4 linked regions of the Homo sapiens genome follow. The protein of the gene in region 3 purifies or fractionates together with the protein of the main gene of each other region. This does not show direct contact. Each region holds a gene or a part of one and is shown on either strand. Other genes may lie near its edges.

Region 1 (7,821 bases), on a different chromosome or scaffold from region 3:
GCAGATAAACAAGTGAACAAGGGTCTCTGGTTTTCCTAGGCAGAGGACCCTGCGGCCTTCCGCAGTGTTTGTGTCCCTGGGTACTTGAGATTAGGGAGTGGTGATGACTCTTAACCAGCATGCTGCCTTCAAGCATCTGTTTAACAAAGCACATCTTGCACCGCCCTTAATCCATTTAACCCTGAGTGGACACAGCACATGTTTCAGAGAGCACAGGGTTGGGGGTAAGGTCACCGATCAACAGGATCCCAAGGCAGAAGAATTTTTCTTAGTACAGAACAAAATGAAAAGTCTCTCATGTCTACTTCTTTCTACACAGACACGGCAACCATCCGATTTCTCAATCCTTTCCCCCTTTTCTATTCCACAAAACTGCCATTGTCATCATGGCCCGTTCTCAATGAGCTGTTGGGTACACCTCCCAGATGGGGCGGCTGGCCGGGCGGGGGGCTGACCCCCACTCCTCCCTCCCAGAGGGGGCGGCTGGCCAGGCAGAGGGGCTCCTCACTTCCCAGTAGGGGCGGCCGGGCAGAGGCGCCCCTCACCTCCCGGACGGGGCGGCTGGCCGGGCGGGGGGCTGACCCCCCCACCTCCCTCCCGGACGGGGCGGCTGGCTGGGCGGGGGGCTGACGCCTCCACCTCCCTCCCGGATGGGGCAGCTGGCCTGGTGGGGGGCTGACCCCCCCCCCAACCTCCCTCCCAGACGGGGCGGCTAGCCGGGCGGGGGGCTGACCCCCACTCCTCCCTCCCGGAGGGGGCGGCTGGCCGGGCAGAGGGGCTCCTCACTTCCCAGTAGGGGCGGCCGGGCAGAGGCGCCCCTCACCTCCCGGACGGGGCGGCTGGCCGGGTGGGGGGCTGACCCCCCCACCTCCCTCCCGGACGGGGTGGCTGCTGGGCGGAGACGCTCCTCACTTCTCAGACGGGTCGGTTGCCAGGCAGAGGGTCTCCTCACTTCTCAGGGCTGCCGGGCAGAGACGCTCTTCCCCTCCCAGACGGGGTCGCGGCCGGGCAGAGGCGCTCCTCATATCCCAGACAGGGCGGCGGGGCAGAGGCGCTCCCCACATCTCAGATGATGGGCGGCCGGGCAGAGACGCTCCTCACCTTCCAGACTGGGCAGCCAGGCAGAGGGGCTCCTCACATCCCAGACGATGGGCGGCCAGGCAGAGACGCTCCTCACTTCCCAGACAGGGTGGCGGCCGGGCAGAGGCTGCAATCTCGGCACTTTGGGAGGCTAAGGCAGGCGGCTGGGAGGTGGAGGTTGTAGCGAGCCGAGATCACGCCACTGCACTCCAGCCTGGGCACCATTGAGCACTGAGTGAACGAGACTCCGTCTGCAATCCCGGCACCTCGGGAGGCCGAGGCCGGCGGACCACTCGCGGTTAGGACCTGGAGACCAGCCCGGCCAACACAGTGAAACCCCGTCTCCACCAAAAAAATAGGAAAACCAGTCAGGCGTGGCGGCGCGCGCCTGCAATCGCAGGCACTCGGCAGGCTCAGGCAGGAGAACCAGGCAGGGAGGTTGCAGTGAGCCAAGATGGCAGCACACAGTCCAGCCTCGGCTCGGCATCAGAGGGAGACCATGGAAAGAGGGAAAGGGGAGACCGTGGAAAGGGGAGAGGCAGAGGGCAGAGGCAGAGGCAGAAGCATTTTTTGTATTTTTAGTAGAGACAGGGTTTCACCGTGCTAGCCAGGATGGTCTCGATCTCCTGACCTTGTGATCCGCCTGCCTCGGCCTCCCAAAATTCTGGGATTACAGGCGTGAGCCACTGTGCCTGGCCTGTAAATTGTTTTATAGAGATGGGGTCTTGCTGAGTTGCTCAGGCTGGTCTTGAACTCCTGGGCTCAAGTGATCCTCCCACCTGGGCCTCCCAAAGAGCTGGGATTACAGGCGTGAGCCACCGCGCTCAGCCCCACACATGGGTTTCAAGCCCCTTGCAACCACCCAGCCAAGTCCAGCAGAGAGACAGGCAGCTCGTGAGCTCCACTCAGCATCTCTCCATCTGTCCCCTGGCAGTGTCACCCGCAACTACCTAGACTGGCTCACGTCCATCCCTTGGGGCAAGTACAGCAACGAGAACCTGGACCTGGCGCGGGCACAGGCAGTGCTGGAGGAAGACCACTACGGCATGGAGGACGTCAAGAAACGCATCCTGGTGAGCCCAGTGTCTGGCCTGTTGTGGATTTGCATGTGGGTGCCCGGGCCCAGGACTCTTGTGTGCTGTGGGTTGAGATTTCAAAGGAGCCCCCTGGTGAATTCGTAGGCCTGGGGGTGCTGGTCGGGGGGATCCCGGCGGAGGTAGCATCCTGCCCTGCCCCCGAGGGCTCGAGGATTTCCCAGGTGGACTGAAGTCATGCCTGACGGGCCGGGCATGGTGGGGCTGCTTGTAGTCCCAGTTACTCAGGAGGCTGAGGCGGGAGGATCACTTGAGCCCAGGAAGTTGAGGCTGTGGTGAGCTGTGATCATGCCACTGCACATCAGGTTGGGTGACAGAGTGAGACCCCCATCTCTACAAAAAATTTTAAAATTGCGGCTGGGCGCTGTGGCTCATGCCTGTAATCCCAGCACTTTGGGAGGCTGAGGCATGCAGATCACCTGAGGTCGGGAGTTGAAGACCAGCCTGACCAACATGGAGAAACCCCATCTATACTAAAAATACAAAATTAGTTAGGCGTGGTGGCGCATGCCTGTAATCCCAGCTACTTGGGAGGCTGAGGCAGGAGAATCGCTTGAACCCAGGAGCCAGAGGTTGCAGTGAGCCCAGATCGTGCCATTGCACTCCAGCCTGGGCAACAAGAGTGAAACTCCGTCTCAAAAAGGAAAAAAAATTTTTTTTAATTAGCCTGGTGTGATGTTGCGTGTCTGCAGTCCCAGCTACTTGGGAGGCTGAGGTGGGAGGACTGCTTGAGCCCGGGAGGTGGAGGCTGCAGTGAGCTGTGATGCACCACTACACTCCAGCCTGGGTGACAGAGCGAGACCTTGTCTGAAAATTAATTAATTTTAAATTAATTTTTAAAATATCACTCCTGAGACATTGGAAACCAGGCAGGCAGGTGGGAGTCAAAGGTTAAAAAACAGGAGTCAGAGCCTGGGCATGGTGGCTCACACCTGTAATCCCAGCACTTGGGGAGGCCGAGGCGGGTGGATCACAAGGTCAGGAGTTCGAGACCAGCCTGACCAACATGGTGAAACCTCGCCTCTACTAAAAATACAAAAAAAGTAGCCAGGCATGGTGACTCACACCTGTAATCCCAGCTACTCAGGAGGCTGAGGCAGGAGAATTGCTTGAACCCAGGAGGCTGAGGTTGCAGTGAGATGAGATCGCACCAGTACACTCTAGCCTGGGCCACAGAGCAAGACTCCATCTCAAAAAAAAAAAAAAAAAAAACAGGAGCCAGAGGCATTGGTGGACTGCTTCTCTGGGTTGGACCGGAGAGAGTGGAGCATTTGCGGTCTTCAGGGTCCCGGGAACTGCTGAACGGGCCTGGCACTGCCGGGTGGCCGCGGTCTCCTAGCACCTAGTTGTCCTTTGGTGTTAAATTGTTAAATGGAGCCCTTGTCACAGGCTGCCCCTCCCCGTGGCCAGTGGCAGCTCTGATGTGCTCAGCCTCCCGGACAATCCTGGTCCCTTCTCGCAGCCCTCAGACGTCTGAAAGGCAGTGTGCAGGTGGCGAGAGTCATGCGCGGGTCCCCGGCTTCCCCAGCTCACGTGCCCACTGAACCTGCCTCTGTCTGCAGGAGTTCATTGCCGTTAGCCAGCTCCGCGGCTCCACCCAGGGCAAGATCCTCTGCTTCTATGGCCCCCCTGGCGTGGGTAAGACCAGCATTGCTCGCTCCATCGCCCGCGCCCTGAACCGAGAGTACTTCCGCTTCAGCGTCGGGGGCATGACTGACGTGGCTGAGATCAAGGGCCACAGGTAGGCCTGGCCTGACAGCTCTCCCCACGCACTCCCCTCAGCTGTGCTGCCGGGCTTCGTCTTCTCCGGTCACCCTTTAACATCTGGTAGAGCAATCCGGGTTGTGGGCAACCGATTCCACTCATGCTGGAGTAACTGAAAAGTCCAGCCATGTGGCGGACTTCAGGCCCAGCTGATTCCAGGTGCTCAAACAGCGCTGGCAGGAACCTCCATGGCTTGACCCCTGGGAGAGAGACTTCTCGGGCCGGCCCTCAGCAGACACCCCCGGTAGTTCCAGCATAGGACCTGCAATGCCCGGGCCAGAGCTGCAGGGCCGGCGTTTGCCGTGCAGATGCTGGTCTATGTGGGCTGTGGCTGATGCCCCAGGACTAGGGGTGGGGTCGGCTCCACCCCCCACCCCGAAGCCTGTGGGCTGGAGTCAGGAGAGACGGTCTCCAGTGAGGACCGGGCCGCGCACACCAGAGAAACCTTGGCGCCTCTGTGGGCTCACTCGTCCCGGCCAGCCTCAGGCCCAGAAGCAGGGGCCACGGCCCTCAGAGTTCAGCGCCCTCCCACCTGACCCTTTGGGTGGGCAGCCGGGCGCGGCTTTTCTGGGGCTTCCCTCCTCGCCAGCCTCTGTAGACAGCGGTTCTTTGGAAACCGTAGCCTCAGTGAGAGCCGAGTGTGAGGCATCTGCTGAGTCCACCACGTGTTTCCATCCTGCAAGGCATTCACTTGAGTCCAGGTTTAAAGTGAACATTTCTGCCTTCTCTAAAAACATCCCCAGCTCCCGACCTCCCGGCTCAGGCCTTCCTAGCATCTGCCCGCCCGCTGCAAGGGTGACAGCATGCTGGCCCGCGCAGTGTCCAGTCCCCAGGGGGCGGCCACTCTGACCAGCCGGGAGTTGGGAGGAGCTGGAGGAGGTGGGGCCAGTGCAGCTTTGGGGAGTCCCAGATTGACTAGGGGGTGGGGGGTGTGAGGGGGAGGACAGGGGACCTGTTCTGCAGGCCCTTGGTTGGGCTGGGGTCTGAGCAGGAAGGAGCAGCTGGGTGAAGGTGGAGGGGTGGGGGTGGGGGGCACCCAGTCCTTCCTGGGCAAGCGGTTTGAAGTGGTCGCGAAGCCTCTTGGAGCCTGGTTCAGGGATGGCTGGAGGTGCGGGCCGGAGGAGAGACCCTGGCGGGGTTCTGAACAAGCCTGGGTCACCTCTGGCCTTGGGAGGGAGTCACCAGGTAGCGGGGCTGCGGGGAGGGCAGGCGTCTGCTGACGTCTCTGGGTTCCTGAGACAAGGACAAGGACAGGAGACTGGCTGCGGGGCGATGGATCGTTGTTATTAACAGCAGCAAAACCCTCCTTTGCCCCCAGCTCTCCAGGGCTCCCACGTTCCTCGGTCAAAGCCCAAGTTCTCACTGCAGCCCACAGGACCCCGCATGACCTGCCCCACCCCCTCCTCTCTCTCCCTCTCTTCTTCCTCCCCCTCCCTCTACCCCCTTCCCTCTCCATCTCCTCCCTCTTCCCCCTCTCCTCCCTCTTCTCTCCCCCCCTCCTCCCTCTGCCTCAGCCTCATGGCCTCCTCACTGTTCTTCTAACACACCAGGCGTGGTCCTGTTTCAGGGCCTTTGCACGGGCTGTGTCCTGGGCCTGGAACACATCTCTCAGACCCTCACGTGGCTCTCTCCTCACGTGCGTTGCTCGGGGCCTCTCCCTAAGACACTCCTTACCCCCCTGCACACTTAAAGTGTCACACACATCCCAGTGGCATCTCAGTCCCTCCATCCCTGCCTCCCTGTGTCTTCATCCCACAGACAGAGCCTTCCTCACTGTCTCTCGTGGGGCCTGGGATTCTTCTGTCCCTGTCGCGGGCCGGGCCCCTGTGCTGGGGCAGAGCACAGAGCTTGCAGGAAGCCCTCCTGAGAGCCAGTGCTGGCCATGGCTAGTATCACCCCAGCCCTTGAGGGCTGAGGCGTGCCTGGCGTCCCTCAGTGAGGAGTGGGGGCCTTCTGCTGCCAGCGCCTGTCTGGCTTTCACCATGGTGTCAGCTGAGGGATGGGACTGAGGGAGATCTGGCTTTGAATCAGTGACCCCAGAATCTGAGCTGGCGAGTCAGGGCAAGTGACCAGCGTGCCTGCAGGTGCCACACATCCGGCGGCTGCCAGCATTTCCGCCTCCCACATCATGGCCACATCTTGTGGGGCTCCAGGTGGCCTCTCCCCTGTGGCCCTGGAGGGTGCATGGTGTCGTTGTGGCCGAGCCAGGCTACCAAGTGACCTCTGACCCCGCTGTGCACCCACAGGCGGACCTACGTGGGCGCCATGCCCGGGAAGATCATCCAGTGTTTGAAGAAGACCAAGACGGAGAACCCCCTGATCCTCATCGACGAGGTGCGTGCGGAGAGGCCCGGAGACCCCCTAACCCGGCAATGCCGTGTGCAAGATGAAGCCGAGCCTTCCGGGTCCTAGGATCCCCGAGCCAACTCAGGGGCCATCGCCGTGATGCTGGCCCTGATGGCACGGACGGGTCCCTCCCACCCACAGCCACGCCCAGCAGGCTGCCCGTCCAAGGCAGGGTGTGGGTGCCGCTCTCACTCGGGGTCTCCCCAGCCCTGACCCTGGGGTCTCCCCACTGGGCGGGCTGGCCAGGGGCACGGCGAGGGGCACCACCTGCTGTCTGCTGCCCCAGGTGGACAAGATCGGCCGAGGCTACCAGGGGGACCCGTCGTCGGCACTGCTGGAGCTGCTGGACCCAGAGCAGAATGCCAACTTCCTGGACCACTACCTGGACGTGCCCGTGGACTTGTCCAAGGTGGGGGGCCTGTCTGGGGCCTGGGCTTGCTGGGGAGGGTAAGCGGCCAGTCCCCCAGCACCTTGCCGCCGCCCCCAGGTGCTGTTCATCTGCACGGCCAACGTCACGGACACCATCCCCGAGCCGCTGCGAGACCGTATGGAGATGATCAACGTGTCGGGCTACGTGGCCCAGGAGAAGCTGGCCATTGCGGAGGTAAGCCCAGCCCCTCCCCACTGCTGTCCCCTTCCCAGAGCAGGGGGCGCCCCCCAGAGCCTGCAGAGGCCGTGCCTCTGGGAGCTCCTGGGCCCGGGAGAGACAGGTGGGACCTGCGGCCGAGGAGCAGATGGGGCCGTGAGAGACACACCAGACGCTTGCGAGCAGCTGCAGGTGGCGCGAGTGGGCGCAGGGTTTAGGGCCTGGGACTGTCCAAAACACCGCCCACCACCGTCAGGCCACACACTCTGTCTCCCGGGGCCTCCAGGCTGCCCCATGGTGGGGCCCCCACCTGGCCCAGAGTGTAGGGAAGGTTTCTGGCAGCCGGAAGCAGTGGGGCCTGTGGCTCCCACCCAGAATGAGGCTTGGAGGAGAAGTGGTTTCAGTGAGGAGCATGCAGGGGCCCATATTTCTCATGTGTTTTTTTTTCTGCAAAGGTGCTGAGTGCATTTCTCCCCTAGGAGCCCTTTGACAGCCAGTGGTGGGCACTGGTCCCTGCCCTTGAGGCCCTCCCAGCATCCTCGTGTCCCCTGGGGGCTTCAATGCCCACTGCTGGGCCCAGTTCCCAGCCTGACTTCTCCAAGGGACGGGCCTGTAGTTCCTGGGGACAGGACTGGGGGGCATGGGGACCCCTCAGGGCATCAGGAGTGCCCCCCAGTATCAGTGGCAGATGTAGAGTGGCTTGCATGGCTCTGTCCGTCTCACAGATGCCCTCCCCCATGCCATTAGAGCTCAGAACTGTGGCAAGAATTGTGTGGGGCTGTGGGTGACCCTGGAGCCCCTGACCCAGTCCCCTTCCTCATGTGCTGAGGGCAGCAGCCACGTAACCAGTCAGCCACCCTACAGGCCCTGGGTCTGTGTATGGGGCCAGCCCATGGGGCAACCAGGAGGCCTTCCTGGAGGAAGCGGCATCTAAGATACCATTGGGGGATA
Region 2 (7,821 bases), on a different chromosome or scaffold from region 3:
AGGAGTTTGGCAAGGGTGAGATGCTAACAGACATTATGAAACTCTGTGGTGGTGCAGTGATAGAGCCGGGCACAGTATATGATGGAATCACTGAGGCTGGAGGGACGTCCTAAACTAGCCTGAAGTAGTCAGGAAGAACTCTCTGGAGGAAGTAAGGCCTGGCCTAAATCTTCAGGATGAGGAGGAGTGAACCAGACAAAAGAGCAAGGGGTGAGGAGAATGGCTTTCCAGGCAGAAGGAACAACATAAGCAAAGTCACAGAGAAGACAAGCAACATGGTGTTGTATGAAGCTACAAGCATTTTGGTGTTGCTGGAATTTCAGGTGATGTGAACAGTAGTGGAGAAGAGGCTGGAGAGGGAAGTGGGAGCCAGATCAGAGGGCATGTAGTATGCTAACCAAGAAGCTTAGATTTCATCCAGTGGTATTACAGACCAAACATAGAAACATACTAATGACTGATATGGTCAGGTTGGCATTTTAAGTATTTGGGGGATGGTTTTAAGGGAGTCTAGACCAGAGGTTTTCATGATAGTCTGGATGAGAGATTGTGGGGTCCTAGCTTGAAGACATTTTTGAAAATGGTTAATAACATAGGCTCTAAAGTCAGGTCTCATGGGTTTAAACAACCTGGTTTCACTTCTTATTATCTTGGTGATCTAAGGCAAATTACATTATCCCTTTAAGCCTCGGTCTTCTCATCTGTGAAATAGGAAAAATAATAATAATAATACCCACTTCATGATGTGGCTAGAGAATTAAATAACTTGTGTAAAACTCTTAGTCATGTCCAGCACAAATACTCAATGTCAACTTTTAAAGATTATTAAGGATTGATGTAAAGAAAAGTAGTAAGGGAATGAATTAGACCAAGTGCTAGCTTTCACAAAGTTTGTGTATTATTTTATGGAACAAAAAATACTATTAAAATATTTTTTCATAATTTTAGACCTATAGAAAAGTTGCAAACATACTACAAAGAATTCCTGTATACTTTTTACCCAGATTCTTCAAGCATTTTCATTTCTCTCATTGCCTGCTTGCCCTGTTCTCTTCCTTAGTATCAGTGTACTTATTCTTTTCTAAACTGTATGTTGCAGACATGATCTAAATATTTCAGTGTATATTTCTTAAAACCAGGGAATTATATAATTGCAGTATAGTTATAAAAACCAGGAAATTAATAATAACATTAACACATTGATACATTACTGTTATCTAATCTGCATTCTATTCAAACTTCACCACTTATATTAATAGTGCTCTTTATAGAAAAAAAAGATCTAAGTTCATGCATTGCACTCAGTTGTCGTGTTCCTTTAGTATCCTTTAAGCTAGACTAGTTCCTGAGCTGCCTTTTATGCTTCATGATATTGCTACTTTTAAGCCATTTATTTTGTAGAAAGTCCCTCAGTGTGGATTTGCCTATTTCCTCAATTAAACTTAGGTTACAGATTGTTGGCCAAAATACCATAGAACTGTTGTGTTCTACTGAATGCATCATGTCAGCAGGCATGTGATGCCTGTCTGTCTCATTATTGTGATGTTAACTTTGATCACTTGGTGAAGTGGTAGACACCACAGTGTTCTATCTGCCACTTTTCCCCAATTCAGTGGTGGTTCTTTTCCTCTGCATTGAAAGGAATCTTTTTATGTGTGCCCATTCAGAAGGGCACCACATAACAACAATGTAGTCATAATTTTTGGAAATAAAAAGGACTTCTGTAATTTTTAATACTAGACTTGAAGCCTTACTGTTAAGGTTGAGATTATTTCAAGTATGAAGCACTAAAATGACTTTTATAAATTATGTACACTTATATTTCATGGCATTAATGTGAGTAACTTTTTTTGAACATAATAATCAGACAGGTTGGTTACTTTTACATTGGGTGACTTATTTTATAATTTATAATTTTATGTTGATGTAACAGGGCCTGCACCCTAGAATAATAGCTGAAGGATTTGAAGCTGCAAAGATAAAAGCACTTGAAGTTTTGGAGGAAGTTAAAGTGACAAAGGAGATGAAAAGAAAAATCCTCTTAGATGTAGCTAGAACATCATTACAAACTAAAGTTCATGCTGAACTGGCTGATGTCTTAACAGAGGTATGTTATTAAACTTTTGCATTCAGAACAAATATAGCCTAATGCATGGTGATATTTTTCTTTTTCTGTAAGATAATCAAGTATTTCATGTGGTTTTTTGGGCATAAAATATGGAAGACAGACAATTATTGTATAGGCCTAACTGTAGATTAGATTTGACTGGTCAGAACAGTATTTGTAATTTTCAGAAGTATCATACTAGGCCTTTTTTTAAACGTGACTTGAAAGGTGGGAGAGGTTTGGCTGCCTGCAGATCATCTCCTGTGGAAGCTCTTGAATAGTATACTGGTCTTTTTAAATCTAGCAGTCCATATTTTATTATGTGAGGTGACACACAAGATAGTTGTTTTAGCAGTGTACCTTGTAGATAAGGTTACCAATATAATGAAATGTGATATGATATATTAATATATTAATATTCACATATTGGAAATGTATGTTTGTTTAGTTTATTTCTTTTATTAATTTATTTGAGACAGAGTCTTACTCTGTCACTCAGGCTGGAGTGCAGTGTCATGATCTCAGCTCACTGCAACCCCCGTCTCCCAGGTTCAAACGATTCTCCTACATCAGCCTCCCGAGTAGCTGGGATTACAGGCGCGTGCCACCACGCCTGGCTAATTTCTGTATTTTTAGTAGAGATGGGGTCTCACTATGTTACCAAAGCTTGTCTTGAACTCCTGACCTCAAATGATACACCCACCTCGGGCTTCCAAAGTGCTGGGATTACAGGCATGAAGTCACCACATCTGGCCAGTGTTTTGTTTATTTCTAAAGGTAGAATATATGTTATATAGGCTGGGCATGGTGGCTCATGCTTGTAATCCCAGCACTTTAGGAGGCCGAGGTGGGGAGACGACCTGAGGTCAGGAGTTTGAGACCAGCCTGGCCAACATGGTGAAATCCTGTCTGTACTCAAAATACAAAAATTAGCTGGGCATGTTAGCAGGCACCTGTAATCCCAGCTACTTGGGAGGCTAAGGCAGGAGAATCACTCTGGGAGGGAGGGGGAGGTTGCAGTGAGCTGACATCATGCCATTGCACTCTAGCCTGGGTGACAGAGTGAAACTTTGTCTCAAAAAAATATATATATATATATATATATATTTTATATAAAGACAAGATTGGCTGGATATTTTGGGAAGGCTTTTATCAGGTGGCAATGATTTGATATCATTATTGTTTTTCAGCTTTGTAATTTCTGAAACTTGAATATATTTGTTTACCAGGAAGAATGATAAATTCTTAGGAAACAAATTCACAAGACATTGACATACAAAGCAGAATACTACCTTAATAATTTACTTTGAGAACTACAAATGCCAAATGTACTGGAATACTTGAGTTGTTTCTGATCGATTCTCCTTACCGTTAAAAAAAAACAACTTGGGAAATCAGATTAAGATCAGACAATTTCTTGATGAGCAGAGTCAGAAGAAAGGCTCTGCTGTGTTTTCTGCTGTTAGAGTACTTGAATGGCCCCAAATCTTCATGCTGCTAGGGCACCCATTCTGTTTTAGAGTTACAGAAACAGTGATATTCTCACTATCCAATGGCCTTTGTCCTATTTCTTATTTGCCTCTAAAATAAAATATTATGTCACCTCAGGCAAAGTTTTCTAAGATACAGTTTTTTCTGCTTTATGTATATTTTAGGGTAGTTATAACTTAGCCCTTAATTTCTGCAGTTATTTATTATTTTTATATCATTTTCTGAGCTAAGCAATAAGACGTGTTGTGCTATGCTTCTTAAATTGTATATCCCTGGTCATATGTGACAGAATAAATGAGACGTAGCTTTCTGGAGTGTCAATTTTACTTTACAATTTTGGGGGAAAACATTATTTTTACATTGAGATAAACATATTATGGGATGACATGGAAACTTTTCACGATAAAACATGAGACTTTAACGTTTCCTGTTATTACAGCCAGCAAATTGGAGCTATTACCTTAGATTACCTTTCCTTCTTTTCCATTAAGGTGTCCTTTGGTGGAAAAGTTTGGATAGTCTTGGTATGATAGAAAGAGTAGTCGCTGGGCAGTTAGGGAGCCCTGAATTCTAGTCCCGGCCCTGTTACTAGCTGTTAGATCTTATTTAAAAACTGTGACTTCTTAAGGTCTTATCTCAGTTGCCTTATCTGTAAAATAAAAGGTTTGGACCTAATGATCTCTGAAGTTTCTTTAGACTCTAAAGTGTCTGTTGGCATTGGCTATTGTTAGCATCCATAGTAAAGTGGCACATATTGGTCTTGCCCTAGGTTTTGAATCCTGAAGGCTTTTATCTCCTTAGTCTGGTGATAGATTGTTTGGGCCCTTGGTTTATTTTAGTAGTCCAAATAACTTAACTGTTCTCATTCATTTCTCTTTCAGGTTGTGGTGGATTCTGTTTTGGCTGTTAGAAGACCAGGTTACCCTATTGATCTCTTCATGGTAGAAATAATGGAGATGAAGCATAAATTAGGAACAGATACAAAGTAAATTACATAAGCTTTGACAACATATGGGTTCTAGAATTTTTTAAAGATATTCTTTTATTAAATTCATTACTTACTTTTATTCAACATAAATATATTCATTCACCATATATTAAGTCACTGCTCTAGGTAATGGGAATGAGAGTAAACAGAACAGAATTTCTTTCCCCAAGAAGTTTATGTTTCTAATTGAAATAGAAAAAAAATCATGTGTGTGATTTTATAGTGGACAGGGAAGACTACTCTGATAAGAACCTGGAGAGCTAAGAGGTCTCTGAAGAAACAAGGGAGCTAGCCATGTGCACATCTGGAATAAGAGGGTTCTAAGCAGAAGGAATGACCTCTGAAAGGGTCCTGAGGCAGAAGTGTGACTAGGTTGTTACAGTGTGCCTGGAGCACAGGGAGAGGAGGTGAGGCAAAAGGGACCAGATTATGGAGTACCATGTTGATTTTGGATTTACTCTTTTAAAACTTTGTATTATAGAAAACTGTGAACATATATAGAGAGAACAGAATAGGGAATTTCCACATAACTGTTAGCTATCTTTATCAATTTCTAACATATGAAGCATACCCTTCCCTCTTTCCCCCTCCCACCTAGGATTATTTTGAAGCAAATCCAGACATCATATACCACCTGTAAATATCATATAATCCATAAAACATAAACCCCCTGCTTTTACCTAATATATCCACAAAACATTATAACACCTTAAAAATGAATAACTCATTAATACTATCACATTTCCAGTTTATAGTCTAATTTGTCTAACAGTTGTCTCAGATTTTTTTCAGTTTTGTTTGGATTAAGATCTACGCACAGTCTGTATAGTGCACTTAGGTGATATCTCTTTTAGTCTCTGTTAATTTGTTAATTTGTAGGTTCTTTCTTCCTCTCATTGTTTTTCACCTTGATAATTATTTTGGAAAAGTCTGATTATTTGTCTTGAAGAGTTTTTGTGGGAAGATTTTTGATTACTCATGCAATTTTCTTCTTCTTCTTCTTCTTTTTTTTTTTTTTGAGATGGAGTCTCACTCTGTCCCCCAGGCTGGAGTGCAATGGCGTGATCTTGGCTCACTGCAACCTCCGCCTACTGGGTTCAAGTGATTCCCCTGCCTCAGCCTTCTGAGTAGCTGGGACTACAGGTGTGTGGCACCACGCCTGCCTAATTTTTTGTATTTTAGTAGAGACGGGGTTTCACCATGTTGGCCAGGCTGGTCTCGAACTCCTCACCTTGTGATCCACCCGCCTCGGCCTTCCAAAGTGCTGGGATTAAAGGCGTGAGCCACCACGCCCGGCCCCACTCATGCAATTTTCTTAATGGCTATAGGACTAATTAGGTTTTCTACTTATTTTTTGAATCATTTTGGTAAGTAATGTTTTCTTAGAAATTTGTCCATTTTGTTTAACTCTGAAATTTTTGGTATAAAGTGTTCATAAATATCCTTACTGGCATAAAATTTTTATAAGGATCCTGTTTGCAGGATCTGTAGTGGTATCACCATTTATTTCTGGTGTTATTTATGCCTTTCTTTCCTTGTTGTGATAATTTTTTCCCAGAGGTTTGTTTTCATTTCACAGTGTCTTTCTCTTTATTATTTAATTTACTTTTTTGGAATTTTGTGGGGACTTTTTTGCTGCTTCTGTTTTATTGTGATAGCTACTTAGGTTATTAATTTTCAGTCTCCTGCTTTTGAATACAGTACTTAAGACCTTAAATTTTTCTCAAAGTACTATTCAGCTGCATCCTTCAAGTTTTGATATGTAATCTTATGATTTTTATTCAGTTTAAAATATTTTCTAATTTCAACTAGAAGTGTGTTTCTTAACATGGGGAAATTTTAGTTATCTTATTACTGATACCTAGCTTAATTACATTGTGGTCAGAGAATATGCTCTATGAGATTTTTGCTCCTTTGAAATTTGTTGACACTTGCTTTATGGCTCAGTGTATAGTCAGCTTTTGTTATGTTAATGTTTCATGTACTTGAAAAGAATGTATGCTGCAGTTGGTAGGTACAATTTTATATACATGTCCATTAAGATCAAGGTATCCTGTTAATCCTGTTGTTCAGAACTTCTATATCCTTATTGATGTTTTGACTGCTTATTCTGTCAATTACTGAGTGAAATGTATAAATATCTTTCAATATTATTTTGTACCTGTTTATATTTTACTTTAGTTTTGAGAGTTTTGCTTTATATATCTTGAGACAATCTTTTTAGATGCATAGTTTTTAAACTGTTACATATTTTCTGGTGCATTGAACTTTTGTACTGATATGAAGTGACTTTTTTCTAGTAATGTCTTTAAAAGTATAATTTATCTGATATTGATAATTATATTTAAAAAATCTTTACATGTTAAAAGCTGTTGTACCAGCTAGCTAGCTTCCTTCCTTCCTGCCTTCCTTCCTTCCTTTCCCTCCCTCCCTCCCTCCTTCCTTCTTCCCTCCCTCCCTTTCCTTTCCTTTCTTTTTTTTTTTTTGAGATGGTGTTTCTCTCTTGTTGCCTAGGCTGTAGTGCAATGGTGTGATCTCGACTCACCGCAACCTCTGCCTCCCAGGTTCAAGCAATTCTTCTGCCTCGGCCTCCCTAGTAGCTGGGATTATAGGCATGCGCCATCGTGCCCAGCTAATTTTGTATTTTTTTTTTAGTAGAGATGGGGTTTCTCCATGTTGGTCCGGCTGGTCTTGAACTCCCGACCTCAGGCGATCCGCCCACCTCTGCCTCCCAAAGTGCTGGGATTGTAGGCATGAGCCACCGTGCTCGGCCTTTTCTTTTCTTTTCTATGATTTTCTCCTTTTCTTTTCTATGCTTTTCTCCTTTTCTTTTCTTTTCTCTTTTCTTTTCCCTCCCCTCCCCTCCCCTCCCCTCCCCCTTCCCTTCCTTTCCGTTCCTTTCTTTTTTTTCTGAGACAGGGTCTTGCTCTGTCACCCAGGCTAGAGGGCAGTGGCACAATTACAGCTCACTGCAGCCTTGACCACCTGGGCTCAAGTGATCCTCCCACCTTAGCCTCTTGAGTAGCTGGGACTACAGATATGCGCCACCATGTCTGGCTAATTTTTATATTTTTTTTGTCAAGACAGGGTTTTGCCATGTTGCCCAGGCTGGTCTCAAATTCCTGAGCTGGAGGGATCCACCTGCTTGGCCTCCCAAAGTGCTGTGATTACAGAACAGAATGAGCCACCATGCCAGGTCCATCCAGTTTTGTTTTGTTTTTTTTTTTTTTTTTAG
Region 3 (6,502 bases):
CTGTGAGACAGCATTATGATTGCTGTTGTGTAGGTTGGGAAATGAAGACAGGAAAGGTGAGGAGCCTTCCCACAGTGGAAAGGGGACGGGAAAGCCTATGGGGGTTGGGGAGCGAGACCTGGGCCAGGCCATCTTATCCCAGATCCTGTGCTGCCTCTGCAGCACCATGAGGTACAGGACCACATGGCTTAACAGACATTCAGTATTTCCCTCATTCCTCAGTGAGGCACCCCTAAAGTCTTTCCAGAATGGACTTCCAAGGGGTGAGTTCTCAGCAGATACCAGCTCCAGCCCGGAGTTGCCCTCACAGGGTCCAGCAGCTAATTCAACCTTTTAGAGCTCTCTGTACTCCCAAGGTTCCGTCTGACCATTCAAAAATGGCTCATTGTCTGGGAATGGTGGCTGAGGCTTGTAATCTAGCACTTTGGGAGTCCGAGGCAGGAGGATTGCTTGAGTCTAGGGCCAGTTACTTGGGAGGCTGGGGTGGGAGGATTGCTTGAGCCCAGGCGGAGAGTGCAGTGAACCCTGATCGCACCACTGCACTCCAGCCTGGGCAACAGAGCAAGACCCTGTCTCAAAAAAAAAAAAGCTCAGCCCTATCCATGCATATGGGACCACTTTGTGTGCTTGGAAATGCCCCCTCCCATAAGGCTTGGGTTTCTCTTGCAAGGGGTGGAGGCACTCCAGTTGCTAAACACCTTTCTTGGGTAGGGGATTGAGGAGACAGGATGCCTTTGGAAGAGCATCCCCTAATGCACAGTTCCATCATCCCTTATAGTATCTGCAGCTCCTCCAGCTCCTGTTTCTATCTGTTACTTCAGGGGCTGAACTCAAATATAGGGATCCAGAAGCAGCAGGGGAGGCCTCTCTGCAGTCTCCTCACTAGGGGGCAGCAGCGGCTACGGGAGGCCTCCCAGCCCTGGGAGGGGGAAGGGAAATGCTGGGCCAGCAGGTGGCAGTGCCCTTCTTGGACCCAAGTAAGGAAAAAGTCCAAGTACCCAGAGAAAGGGAGGGGAAAAAAATCCGTATCCTGTAAAGACCCAGGTTCCACTTGTCCTTGAAGATCCCGCTGAAGGTGTCACACTCCCTCCCTCCAGGAGGCTCCCTGGACCCCTCAGATCCAGATAGGTGATCCTCCTCCATTCCTGCCTCCTGGAGAAAGAATTACACTATCACCTGATGAGTGATACCTGACTCCTCCAGAACCCTTCAGGGCAGGCATTTTATTCATCATTTATTTTAAAAATAACTGGGAGTCAGAAACAGATGCTAAGAGGAGGCACATTCTTCAAGTTTTCTAAAAGAACCCTTTCTACTTTGGATAGGACAAAAATGAGCTTTGGCTGAATGAACTGAGACTAGACATAAGAAGGACTGAGCTGCTGATGAGTTATGAATGGAAGACTAACACGCAGTCTCAAGGCAGGAGAAGAAGAACATGTGCTGTTTTCCTGGGAGTGGGGCAACTGGTGGTGGCTGTGAGAAGGCAGAGCTCTTCAGAGGGGACAGCCAAGAACAGGTAGTCACTGGGGGCCCTATTTAGCCTGAGAATGCAGGAGGGATTGTTTTATGGGGTCCTCCCTGCCCCTCAAGACACCCTTCCGCCCCATCCCCACACCAGGGTGCTAGAGAAGATAGGAATATAGATTTTAATCATTGTGCTGCTGCTATTAACCAGAGTGCAATTAATCCATCTTTTGTGGATTTTGATGCCACAGTGTAAATGAGAGGGTTTCACACAGAAACACTCTGGGGGCCTTCGGTGACAAAAGGGCTAGGCCTCTGGTGGGGAGGGGGTGGCAAAAGGTGAAGTGGAATTAGGAGAGATGTGGGGAGCAGACCCAGGGCTGGGAGACTGCTCCTTCCCCATCACACATGCCCATCAAGGACCCCAAGAGGAAGGGATTCTTCCTGCCATGGCCTGGGCTGTCCAAGTGAGCCTGACTTCCCTTCCAAGGCAGCTGCCTCTAGCTTCATGTCCAATTCTCGCTGAGTAGATGAGGTCCAGGGTAGGCCCACAGTTGACCACCAAATGGTGAAGAGATATAAGCCAAGGGAGAAGAAAGTGGTTTGGAACCCCCAATCATTCTCCATTTTTCATCCTAAGCTACCTTAAAACTAGTTCAGAGCTGGGGAAAGACAGCAACAGCAGTCTATCCTCTCGGTCAGAACTGCTCTACCTGCCTCCTGGAGATGGGGGTGGGGGGAGGTGGGACTCACAGGAGGGAGAGGTAGGAAATATTCCTGTGCCTTTCTTTGCCTGTGCAGTAAGTGAAGACTCTCTTCAGAGTCAGCTCTGCAGCTGGTGGAGTCATCTGTGCCTCTTACAGTTTTCTGAGATTGGTAGGATTTGGAGCTATAGAGAGGTCAACTTAGAGCCCCAAGGCCAGACTCCACTGGTTGCTAACAGGAGCTGACATTCTTGGAAGTAGCCCCGACTGCTTGGACAAGATCATTCCTCATGTTAAGAGTGAAGTGATATGGTCCAGGGCAAAGGTACTGAGCCCAGAGACAGCTAGGAGTCAGAGACACACAGGGCCTCCACTGCGTCACTCAGACCCTGGTTGACACCTCCCACGGCGAGGAGGCAGTTCTTGACGACTATGCTGGAGCAGGCACAGCGGGGTGTGGGCATGGCAGGGAGGATCTCCCATTTGTTCTTCCCTGGGTGGAATGCTTCCGCCGTCTCCAGGACAGTGGGTTGATTCCCTGAAAGTGTCAAGGGAATCAGACCTTACAAAGGAGTCCAACCACCAATCCATGCCCCACGGTCACCCCACCTCCCTCCCTTCGGCACCCACAAGCAGAAGCCAAGCAAGGTCAACTTCCTTGGCTACAGGATTACTCCCTTTACTAAGCCAGTGGCTTTTGTCAAGCAGCCACTTTGTCCCTCCTACCGTCTTCCTGTCTCTTTAAGAGTAAGCTTTCTTTCCCTACCCATTGCTTTTTACCAGAGCTTTCTAGCACACTACTGCCTCACTGCTGCCCTTTCCTAAAAAAGCTACTGACATGGTCTAGTTGACACGGTTCCTTCATGCCTGAGTAAAGTGGGAGTTTGTCCACACTAAGTAGACTTGGGGTACCTGGAAGCCCTGCTGCCTGGATCTCTCTTCCTTGATGATGGGGAACTTCTCGCTTTAGAGTCCCTCCTTCAAAATACTAGTAATCTCTGGCAGAGTTAATACATCAAACCCAAGATTCATCTGTTGAACTTATTTAATCAGATTGCTTTCCTGTTCCACGATTGGGCTGGAACAGGATAAGAGACTGGTCAGAGGAGGACCAAGGCTAATCCCCTCCACAGTTTGTCTCCAGTCATTCCCGTTTAGGGATCTGTGCTCAGTAAGCCTGTGCTGCACGGCTACGGGTGTCCCTTATTCTCTCTGCGTCACAGTTTCCCTGTGTAGGAGGACAGAAAGGCCACACCTGGGGCCCACAGTGGATAGGTAATATCTAGGCTGGAAGAAAGGGAGTGCTTCGAATTTTTTGGAGTATAGTGGTAGGCAGGTGGTCTGCAGGGAGTCAGTACCCTTTCCTGCATATGCAAAGTGCCAAGGATCCACTGAGCACCAGAACCACAATAAATTCCAGCGTGAAAGCGCCATCCTTACCAAGTCCCCCAGCCACTATGACCCGTCCACTCAGAGAGCCAGCCACAAAATCTGCCCGCCGCTTCTTGAGGAAGAACGATCGTTCCATCTTCAGCCATCCCCCTATAGGCCATGGATAATGGTGGGTTATATAGACAGAATAAGATACAGACCACTCCCACCAAATGCAGATTGTGGCCCAAATAGCTTTCACCCTGGGCAGTGTCTTCACTCTATTTATCCTTTATGCTTGGGGAGTACACAGTTCCTCCTGCTGTTTCAAATTCTCTGTGGCTTCCCCCTCTCCCATGCTTGCTGCTCTGTAAGGCATCATCATCCCCTACAATGAATCACCTTGACTTCTGGTTAGGAGGCTAATAGAGGCAGTGAGGGAGGAGTCAGGATCCTTCTGTTTCTCCATCAGTAAAAAGTAAGAAAAATCCCTCTCTGACCTGGTCCTGTGTGAATATTGTAAGAAAAGACAATATAGGTAGAAAAGGGGCTTTGATAAAAACCAACCAAGCAAAAAGGGGACCTATACCAATGAAGGAATTTGATTCCAAGAGTAGCCCTGAGTGGAGAGGGGTGCTGAGACTTCTGAGAAGCTTGCCCAGCTGGGTAAACGGCCCTGGAAGATGGCTGGAATAGGGGTAAGGGATGGGGAGCCAGCCAGAAGGGCAGTGGGCAGCCAGAGCTTCCTGGGGAAGGTGACCAGCTCACCCTGTTCCATGTCGAACACGTCCATCGTCCGCAGGAACTTGGGCTGCCGGTAGAGGCGACCTTGCCGCAGGCCTCCTAGGCTGTACAAGTGGTTGTCCAGGGTCACAAAGCTGGAGAAGGCCCGCTTATAGGGAATGTTGGGAAACTTGGTCCAGGAGCGAGTCTCGATGTCAAAGACCTCGAAAGCGTTGACCGCGTACTTGGACTGTCGTCCCCCTGGGGGCCAGAGCAGGATAGAGGTTGGGCAGAAGGGTTGTCCCTGAGGACAGCGACAGTGAAAAGGGTTTCCCCTTTTGACAGTTACTCATTCATACAGGAAGCTCCCGGTGGGCTGGGCAGTGTGATTATCCCCAGTGCCGAGGAGATGCTCAGCACACAGGCACTGCTTCCTATGGGAACTGAGCCAAGGGAAGGAAGGAGGGTAGGTATAGAACAGTAACCTGTCCTTACCCAGCACGTAGATCTTGGAGCCTCGGAGGAAGGAGGTGGCAGCATATCTCGGGGTGGGCATGGGTGCTAGGGACACCCACATGTCCTTCAGCATGTCATAGTGTTGGAGGTGGTTGTGTGGACGTAGGTCCAGGCCCATCCCGCCTGCCGCATATACTCGGTAATCTAAGAAGAAAGGCCATACATGCCCCTGGCTTAGCTCACAGGTACAGCAAGACAGGCCCACCAGCATCTATTGCCTCCCATGGCCAGGCCAAGCTTTCAACCACTGCTCAGCCAGAGTGAGTCATATCTGTATCAGTGTGGTTGATAGCACCATTCAAAGAAGTTCCTGCTATAGCTAAGCCTGAGAGTCTGTTTCTTTTTTTTTATTTTTATTATTATTATTTTTTTAGATATGGTCTCATTCTGTCATCCAGGCTGGAGTGTGGCATAATCATGGTTCACTGCAACCTTGACCTCCTGGGCTCAAGAGATCTTCCCATCTCAGCCTCCCAAGTAGCTGGGACTACAGGTCCATGCCACCACACCTGACTAATTTTTGTATTTTTTGTAGAGACAGGGTTTTGTCATGTTGCCCAGGCTGGTCTCGAACTCCGGGGCTCAAGCAATCCTCTTGCCTCGACCTTCCAAAGTGCTGGGATTGCAGGTGTGAGCGACTGTGCCCAGCTGCCTGGGTCTTTTGAAGCCATGGTACGACTACACGCCCTAGTCTTCCTTAGTGTCCAGCCCTTTGGCTAAGCCTGAAACACTGCGTGAAGTTTAGGCCTGGAAAACCCTTTGCAGGTCTTATCCCCTTCACTGTCCTCCCTGGGCAGCCAGAGGGGAAGCCAAAGAGGAGAGGTATTCTTTTTTTTTTGAGACAGAGTCTTGTTTTGTTGCCCAGGCTGGAGTGCAATGGTGTGATCTCAGCTCACTGCAACCTCTGCCTCTCGGGTTCAAGCGATTCTCCTGCCTCAGCCTCCAGAGTAGCTGGGATTACAGATGCCTGCCACCACACCTGGTATTTTTAGTAGAGACGGGGTTTCACCGTGTTGGCCAGGCTGGTCTCAAACTCCTGACCTCAGGTGATCCACCTGCCTTGGCCTCCCAAAGTGTTGAGAATACAGGCATGAGCCACCACGCCTGGCTTCAATGAGTAGAGATATTCTTCTGATGCCCTTTCCCCAGGCATTCACAAACTGGCATTTTTAGATATGGCAGGGGCCTTTAGAAATAAGATGAGTCATGCTGTCACTGGCCTATGGGACACTGGACTGCTGCTGGTTCTGTGTCTGCCAGCCCCATTGGGGAATGCCATCTTCCTTCACAAATTGGGAAACTTGTGGGATCCAGGAGTCACTTCAACTAAATGAGATAGGGCTAGGGGTGAATGAGGGTGAAGCTTTGGAGAGAGTACTGGTCCCTTTAAGAAACCCTGCCCAGGAAGTGAGCTGGGATACTTTGAGAAGTGAGTCTCCTCTCATTCTCTACTACTCTTGACTGTAGGTGGCCTTTCAAAGGACTTCACTACACCAGAGAGGATGGGCAAGGCATCTGTGTTTCCCTGGGTCCCACCCCAGGACCTCCCAGGCCTCTCTTTCTCAGGGAGCCACCCCTGCCCGGGATTCTGTCTGCCAGCAGCCAGTCCTCAATGCTTCTGGCTCCAGGAGGCCTTTATTCTTAAGGTGATTGTAGGGATGAGTACTATTTCCTCCTACTTTCCAATCTTATTGGAAAAAAAAAAAATGCCAACCCTAGCC
Region 4 (7,821 bases), on a different chromosome or scaffold from region 3:
AGAAATGAGAAAGAGAGCAGGGCTGAAACCACAGTGAGTGCCAGAGACTCTAGAGCACAGTGCTTGTCTGTCCTGGGTAGGCAGGTGCCAGTCAGCAGATGACTGCCATCATAGTTCCAGCTATGCTATTAGCAAGTTTTCTGATTTTTTAAAGAAAAATTCTAAGTGTGGATATTTTCAAAAGGAGTTATCTCTCGATTTTTAAGTGTTGGCAACTAATCAAATCTGTGCACAAAAAACCACAAAGGCTTGGGTCCTTTGGTTTACGATGTGACCTCTTCTGAGGAGGTATTAACATTTTATAAGAGATCTGCTTCCTTAGAGAAATTTGGAGACCTAGGGTGGTCTAAGAAAAATCACTTCTCCTTCTAGCCAAGACTGGCAGTCCCAACTCTGCTCTGGTGAAAGGTTTGGCCAAGCCACCATCTCCCCACCACAGTTGCTAGTTCCTTCAAGGAGGAACTGAAGGAACACTGACTCTCAACAGCTGTTGCCCGTTCCCAATATCATGGCTACATCACAATACTAGAGGGAAATAATTACTGTCATGGTGATAAGAATTTTAAGTGTACATTTCTAAGATGTTTTTAGTTAGCTAGTGAAAATACAATTCAAAAATATAAGCCATTTATATGGGAATATTGACTTTCAGTAATATTCATTTATACTTTTGCATGTAACTGTTCTTTAAGTTACTCTTTAAAATAACAATTAACTTTTTTTTTCTTTCTTTTTTGAGATGGAGTCTCACTCTATCGCTCGAGCTGAAGTGCAGTGTCGCGATCTCCGCTCACTGCAACCTCTGTCTCCTGGGTTCAAGCAATTCTCCCACCTCAGCCTCCCCAGTAGCTGAGACTACAGGTACCTGCCACCACACCCGGCTAATTTTGTAGTTTTAGTAGAGGCAGGGTTTCGCCATGTTGGCCAGGCTGGTCTTGAACTCCTGACCTCAAGTGATCCACCCCCCACTTGGCCTCCCAAAGTGCTGAGATTGCAGGCTTGAGTCACTGGGCCCCTGCCTGCTTAACTTAATACTAAATAACATATGAGAGAGTACAATGAAACAACTTAGGAAGTTTTTTCTTTTAGTTTTCTTCATTTCTCTAGTAAGCCAGTATATCTCCAGCCAAACAATTCACTGTGTTTTTTTAGAAAAAGTCACAGATGGAAACAAAGTTACCTGAATGTGGAGTCTCTGTAGAAATGGCAAACCACATTTTCACTCTCCTTGACTTCTTGAAAAAAGTCTCTTTCACTAGGGATTTCTCTGTATTCCCCATGTCCTTTAGAAAGCCATTCCTAATTTGGAGAGAGGCAAAACATTACACATGTGAGATATCTCTTTCAGAACCACTTGACATTTTAAGTGTCCAAATCACCATCGTATTTTGTAATGAAGTCAATTAAAAAAAAAAGTTTTTTTTTTGTTTGTTTTTGTTTTTTTTTTTTGAGACGGAGTCTTGCTCTGTCACCAGGCTGGAGGGCAGTGGCGCGATCTTGGCTCACTGCAACCTCCGCCTCCTGGGTTCAAGCAATTCTCCTGCTTCAGCCTCCCGAGTAGCTGGGACTACAGGCGGGCACCAGTATGTCCAGCTACTTTTTGTATTTTTAGCAGAGATGGGTTTTCACCATGTTGGCCAGGATGGTCTCGATCTCTTGACCTTGTGATCCGCCTGCCTCGGCTTCCCAAAGTGCTGGGATTATAGGTGTGAGCCACCGCGCCCGGCCCAAAAGTGTTATTTATTTATTTTTTTTTTGAGAATGGGTCTTGCTAAAGTTGCCCAGGATGGAGTGTGGTGGCATGATCATAGCTCACTGCAGCCTCAAACCTCCTGGGCTCAAGAGATCCTCCTACGTCAGTCTCCCAAGGAATTGGGACCACTGGCGCATGCCACACCACGCCTGGCATTTTTTTTTTTTTTTTTTGGTAGAGACGGGGTTTTTACTATATCGCCCAGGCTGGTGTCAAACTCCTCGGTTCAAGCAATCCTCCCACCTTGTCCTCCAAAAGTGCTGGGGTTATAGGCATGAGCCACTGTGCCTGGCTGAAGTCAAAGAAAAATGAATGTTTTTTAGCAATTTACTTTCCTGTTTCTACTGTCAATGCAAAACTAGTCTACGGACAGTGAACGTCTCCACAGCATGGCCTGGGTTCAAGACAATTACCTGTCTTTGTAGCTTAAAACATCTATTTTCTCAGAACTTTCAAAATAAAAATTTAGACTTGAGAGACTCAGAATGTAAATATCCACTTAACTCTATCCATGTACTCTTAAACTACTAAAACCAGAAGCATTTGATCCAAGTTACTACAAGTCTTTTAAAAATAATGCTCATGAGGCTGGGTGCAGTGGCTGATGCCTGTAATCCCAGCACCTTGGGAGGCTGAGGCGGCTGGATCACCTGAGGTCAGGAGTTCCAGACTAGCCTCGCCAACATGGTGAAACCCCGTCTCTACTTAAAAAAAAAAAAAAAATACAAGAAATTACCTAGCTGTGGTGGTAGGCGCCTGTAATCCCAGCTACTTGGGAGGCTGAGGCAGGAGAATTGCTTGAACCCAGGAGGCAGAGGTTGCAGTGAGCTGAGATCACGCCACTGCCTGGGCAACAGAGTGAGACTCTGTCTCAAAAATAAATAAAAATAAAAATAATGCTTATGAGATAAACCCAATTCGTCTTGGGGAGAAAAGGAGGATACTGCAGCTCTGAAGCTCAAGAGCCCTGTCTGCTTTTGATAACCACTTTATAAATGCTTAAAAAGTCTCTATACCTGCACTAATTGTTAGAAAGGTCATCTCACACTGAACTGCAATATATCCATAATTCTGGTCTGTGGATTCCAGCTTGGATAAAGATTAAAGTTTTAATCTCTTTCCCACGTGGGCCCTTCAAACATCACATATTGCCTAAGTTTTCCCTTCTCCACACTGAACACTTCCAGTTCCTTTTAACTGTTCTCATATGAAAAGATTTCTAGAGTTCCTACTCTTCCAGGATATCAACTAAACACACTCTAATTCACCAATGTCTTCTTAAAATGTGACAGAGGTCTGAATCCAGCCTCCAGAAGGGGTCCAACCAAAGAGCCAGGAGGGCCATCTCCCTTCCTCCTCTGGACGTCAGTGAACGTGGCCCAGACTATATTGATGACTGCGGTGTCAAAATCACATCCATTTACATCGAGCTGACACTTGCAGGATACCCTGATATTTTCTTATGTGAAATTTCTACACACAGTTTAACTCTCAAATACAATTCCCTAATGACATATGACATTTCATGACTGCTTTCACAACTTACCAATGATATGTGCCCTTAAAAAGTATTTGTTAGGCTGGACGCAGTGGCTCACACCTGTAATCTCAGCACTTTGGGAGGCTGAGGCAGGTGGATCACTTGAGGACAGGAGTTTGAGAACAGCCTGGGCAACACGGCGAAACCCTGTCTCTACAAAAAATATGAAAATTAGCCAGGTGTGTTGGCACACACCTGTAATCCCAGCTCCTCGGGGGCTGAGGCACAATAATTGCTTGAACTCCGAAGGCGGAGGTTGCAGTGAGCCAAGATCACACCACTGCACTCCAGCCTGGGTGACAGAGCAAGACCCTGTCTCAAAAAAAAAAGTATTTGTCTTTTAAAAAGCTGCTATTTCTAGGCCGGGCGCAGTGGCTCACGCCTGTAATACTAGCACTTTGGGAGGCTGAGGTGGGCGGATCACCTGAGGTCAGGAGTTCAAGACCAGCCTGGCCAACATGGCGAAACCCCACCTCTACTAAAAATACAAAAATTAGCCGGGCATGGTGGCAGGCGTCTGTAATCCCAGCTACTTGGGAGGCTGAGGCAGAAGAATTGCTTGATCCTGGGAGGTGGAGGTTGCAGTGAGCCGAGATTGTGCCACTGCACTCCAGCCGGGGCAACAGAGCAAGACTCTTATCTCAAAAAAAAAAAAAAAAAAAAAAAAAAAAAGCTGCTATTTCTTTTCATTATTTATTCTCAGGTATTTAACCAAGAGGCTGAAGACCCGAACCTGTCCTGGGCTCCTTTGAGGGAGGATGTGCCCATTCCAAACCTCTACCAATGCTCAGGGCCTCTCCTGACACATTCACTACACCCCTGTGCTCTTAGCATAGCCCCTTTTGGACAGCATGTGCTCCTAAGGTATCTGCAGAACAGAATCAAGCAGGATGGGCCTACCTGAGGCATGGCAGCTGGGCAGCACCTGGCTGTCAGTGGCTGTCACCCAAGCCTCTGCTTAACTCCTATTTCTTACCTTATCCCTCTATTCTGCTCCCTACCTAAGTGTGCCAGCTCTAGTTAACAGTAGGAGGGTGCTTGGCTGACAGAAGAATATAGATTCACCTAGGTCTATTAAGTGCCGACTGTAAGTCAATGCATACAATGATCTCCCCAATACCCTCGTGGATCAGAAAATCAAAATTACTGCATAATCTAATTACTGTATAATCTCTTATAAAAAGAATATCTATACAAATCACTAGGTTTCTTGACTATTTCCAGAAAATATTTTAATAAAAGACCTACTAAAATGCAGTGAAAGTTCTAAAATAAGACCCTCTGAATTACTCGATGACAAATTCATTTTAAATTGATTTATACATTAATAATAAAAAAGGCTTATAGCCAGTCTGCCTTAGTTGGTTTTAATTATATTCAGACCACTGTTTTGAACTGCCAAAAAGTTCCTTTAAGACATTATTTAACGTATGTTCATCACTGCAAATCAGGTGAATTCAGTCTCTCTACAAAAATATCCTAGTTACAAATAATTATTTTTAGTTGCACATTAGCAATTAGTACTTAAATGTGACTATGAAATATGAGTTTGTGGCAGAACCTAAACATATATTACCTTAAATTCCAATAATCCGTCCTTTGCATACTAATTATCAGCCCTATACTATGAAAAGAAGCCAATTGGGCCTGGTGTGGGGTGGCTCACACCTGTAATCCCAGCACTTTGGGAGGCTGAGGCAGGCGGATCATTTGAGGTCGGAATTTGAGACCAGCCTGACCAACATGATGAAACCCCATCTCTACTAAAGTACAAAAATCAGCTGGGCATGGTGGCAGGCACCTGTAATCCCAGCTACTTGAGAGGTCAAGGCAGGATGGGCAACAGAGTGAGACTCCCTCTCAAAAAAAAAAAAAAAAAGAAAGAAAAGAAAAAGAAAAGCAGCCTATTTTTTAAAATACGGTAGGGTACAGGTAAAAGCCATATAACGTACTCTATTTTAGAAACTCAAAATATAAAAATTTGGACTCACTTATAAAAGATTATTTCCTTTTGTAGTAACTCTTCTAAACATGAGGGTGTAAACATATCAAAGTGATGCTACAGCAATACAAACAAAACTCCTTCTCTTTTTTTGTGGGGGAACTGGGTCTTGCTCTATCATCCAGGCTGGAGTGCAGTAGCACAATCTCGACTCACGGCAACCTCCACCTCCCGGGTTCAAGAGATTCTCCTGCCTCAGCCTCCTGAGTAGCTGGGACTACAGGTGTGCGCCACCACACCTGGCTAATTTTTGTATTTTTTGTAGAGACAGGGTTTCACCATGTTGGCCAGGCTGGTATTGAACTCCCGACCTCAGGTTGTCCGCTCACCTTGGACTCCCAAAGTGTTGGGATTACAGATGTGAACCACCATGCCCGGTCAAAACTCCCTATTTCTTCAGAAAAGTTAAGCCTCATGTTTAAGTCACAGTCAACTGAAAAGGAACCAGAGTTGGTGATAAAGTATTTCCATGTAACCCAGTGGAAAAAATGTTTTAATCAAAATTCAATTTGGCCAGGTGCGGTAGCTCACGCTTGTAATCCCATCACTTTGGCAGGCTAAGGTGGGCGGATCACTTGAGGTCAGAAGTTCAAGGGCAGCCTAGCCAACATGGCGAAACCCCATCTCTACTAAAAATACAAAACTTAGCCAGGCATGGTGGTGTGCGCCTGTAGTCCCAGCTACTCGGGTGGCTGAGGCAGAATAATTGCTTGAAGCCGGGAAGCGGAGGTTGCAGTGAGTTGAGATGACACCACTGTACTCCAGCCAGGGTGTCACAGCGAGACTCCATCTCAAAAAGCAGAAAAAAAAATTTCAATTTACAGAATTTAATCCACTGGTTTCAGTCAGAGTTTACAACTCTGCGTTTATTCTACACAAACATTCTAAGAGGCAACAACGATAGAGCTGTGGCCACCTTTGTTACAAAGCATGCATTCTTTTGAATATGCCACATAATTATTTCATTGGAAATGCCTGAAATACATTTTTCAACATAAATTGACTTAATTGCTCTTATCTCATCTGTCTTATCTCGTTTGCTTTGAAAATAGCTAAATCGGCTTTAATATTACCTGAAATGGAAACCAATGACTCCCTAGCCCTCCATTCAACCAAACAAATCCAAGCTCAGAAAAACGATCTTGGGCAGATCTTTCTTTTACTCGACTGTGGATTAATATAGAGATTGGGCTAATTTTGAATGTCTTTAAAACATATTTTTTTCTGGGCAAATTTTTAACAGTAATAGGTATTCTGAATTTTAAAAACCCTAAACACAAAGAACGAAATGTAACTACTACAGCACATGTATATATAAGTTGTTAGGCGCATACTGTTATAGCAATTTCAGAAAGCAGGGCAGAGAGGTTACTTGTTTCTGCTGTTGAGCTTTCCTTAGTGCCTGGAGTCTCTTTTCTTTAAGGCGTTCCAATTCATCCTCATCCATCTGATCCAGTTTTTGAATTTCAGAATCCAAATGTTCTTCCACCAGTTTGGTAGTCTGAAGCAGCTGATGCTCCAGGACTTTGGAAAACATGTCAACAGATGCATCAGCTTCCATTCTTCCAAATGGTACAGAGTTCAGCCTGGGTGCTGGGGAGAAGATTTACAAAATACATTTTAAAAAATGCAAACAATAAGCAAGGTTTTCTCTACCATTTTCAAAAATTCTGGCAAGTGTATAATGTGTACTCTATGGAGTATTCTAACGACATCCAAGCACTTGATGCTGGGCTTAACAATTTTTATGTGTTTTTAAATTTAATTCTCAGTAGGTTCTAGTCACACCACTCAAAAACTACTTACAGCAAATTTAGGGTGCTTCTGATTTAGCATATGTTTTACTATACTAAAGCCAAGACAAGTCTTTAAGACCATCACCAAACCACAGAGAAATGAGTTGTGAAGTTATACCTAGTGATATATACTGACAATCAGTGTTCTTTACCAATGGGAAAGAGAAATCAGAAACAACTGCGAACAATAGGAAGGTATACCTACTGAGGTTTTACACATAAATATATATATTAAACTTTACTTAAACACAGAGTACAGTTGAGCAAAACACAGATTTTTTTCATGGCTGCTGCCCAAATGAGTTTCATTTAACTCCTAAGACGTCTCATTACCATTTATGTAAAGAAGAGTGCCTGGTGTTCCCTGAGCATTAATGTCCATTCCTGTTCTCCCATTACCTAACAAAAAAGTCTATGAGGTCACAAAAATTAATACTGGTTTCCATTTACTGACAGTGTTAACTTTGATGTAAAACACTCCAAATACTTTTCTAAATTTTGGGTTTTTTTCCAACATCACTCCTCTGTGTAAAATCAGAGTTTCAAAATAGAACTAATTCAGATTAGAAAGGAAGACCTATCTCAATTAGTCATGCATCACTTAACAATGGGAATATATTCTAGGCTGGGTGCTATGGCTCACGCCTGTAATCCCAGCACTTTGGGAGGCCAAGGTGGGCAGATCACTTGAGTTCAGATGTTTGAGACCAGCCTGGGAAACATGATGGAA

The links.
Region 1: the proteins of KLHDC8A (region 3) and LONP1 purify together in Homo sapiens (affinity purification with mass spectrometry; 2 studies listed by BioGRID and IntAct, with this or other methods). This does not show direct contact.
Region 2: the proteins of KLHDC8A (region 3) and CCT6B purify together in Homo sapiens (affinity purification with mass spectrometry; 2 studies listed by BioGRID and IntAct, with this or other methods). This does not show direct contact.
Region 4: the proteins of KLHDC8A (region 3) and TXNDC9 purify together in Homo sapiens (affinity purification with mass spectrometry; 2 studies listed by BioGRID and IntAct, with this or other methods). This does not show direct contact.

Annotation. Positions count from the first base shown.
Region 1 is NC_000019.10:5,695,121-5,702,941, reverse strand, and holds part of LONP1 (lon protease homolog, mitochondrial isoform 1 precursor), read left to right. Parts: intron 1-2,014; coding exon 2,015-2,153; intron 2,154-3,736; coding exon 3,737-3,915; intron 3,916-6,184; coding exon 6,185-6,272; intron 6,273-6,570; coding exon 6,571-6,693; intron 6,694-6,771; coding exon 6,772-6,888; intron 6,889-7,821. UniProt on the Homo sapiens protein: ATP-dependent serine protease that mediates the selective degradation of misfolded, unassembled or oxidatively damaged polypeptides as well as certain short-lived regulatory proteins in the mitochondrial matrix.
Region 2 is NC_000017.11:34,948,712-34,956,532, reverse strand, and holds part of CCT6B (T-complex protein 1 subunit zeta-2), read left to right. Parts: intron 1-1,933; coding exon 1,934-2,107; intron 2,108-4,479; coding exon 4,480-4,583; intron 4,584-7,821. UniProt on the Homo sapiens protein: Component of the chaperonin-containing T-complex (TRiC), a molecular chaperone complex that assists the folding of proteins upon ATP hydrolysis.
Region 3 is NC_000001.11:205,334,884-205,341,385, forward strand, and holds the end of KLHDC8A (kelch domain-containing protein 8A), read right to left. Parts: intron 4,926-6,502; coding exon 4,761-4,925; intron 4,527-4,760; coding exon 4,311-4,526; intron 3,714-4,310; coding exon 3,612-3,713; intron 2,710-3,611; coding exon 2,516-2,709; 3' UTR 1,178-2,515; downstream 1-1,177.
Region 4 is NC_000002.12:99,326,355-99,334,175, forward strand, and holds part of TXNDC9 (thioredoxin domain-containing protein 9), read right to left. Parts: intron 6,889-7,821; 5' UTR 6,857-6,888; coding exon 6,668-6,856; intron 1,300-6,667; coding exon 1,181-1,299; intron 1-1,180. UniProt on the Homo sapiens protein: Significantly diminishes the chaperonin TCP1 complex ATPase activity, thus negatively impacts protein folding, including that of actin or tubulin.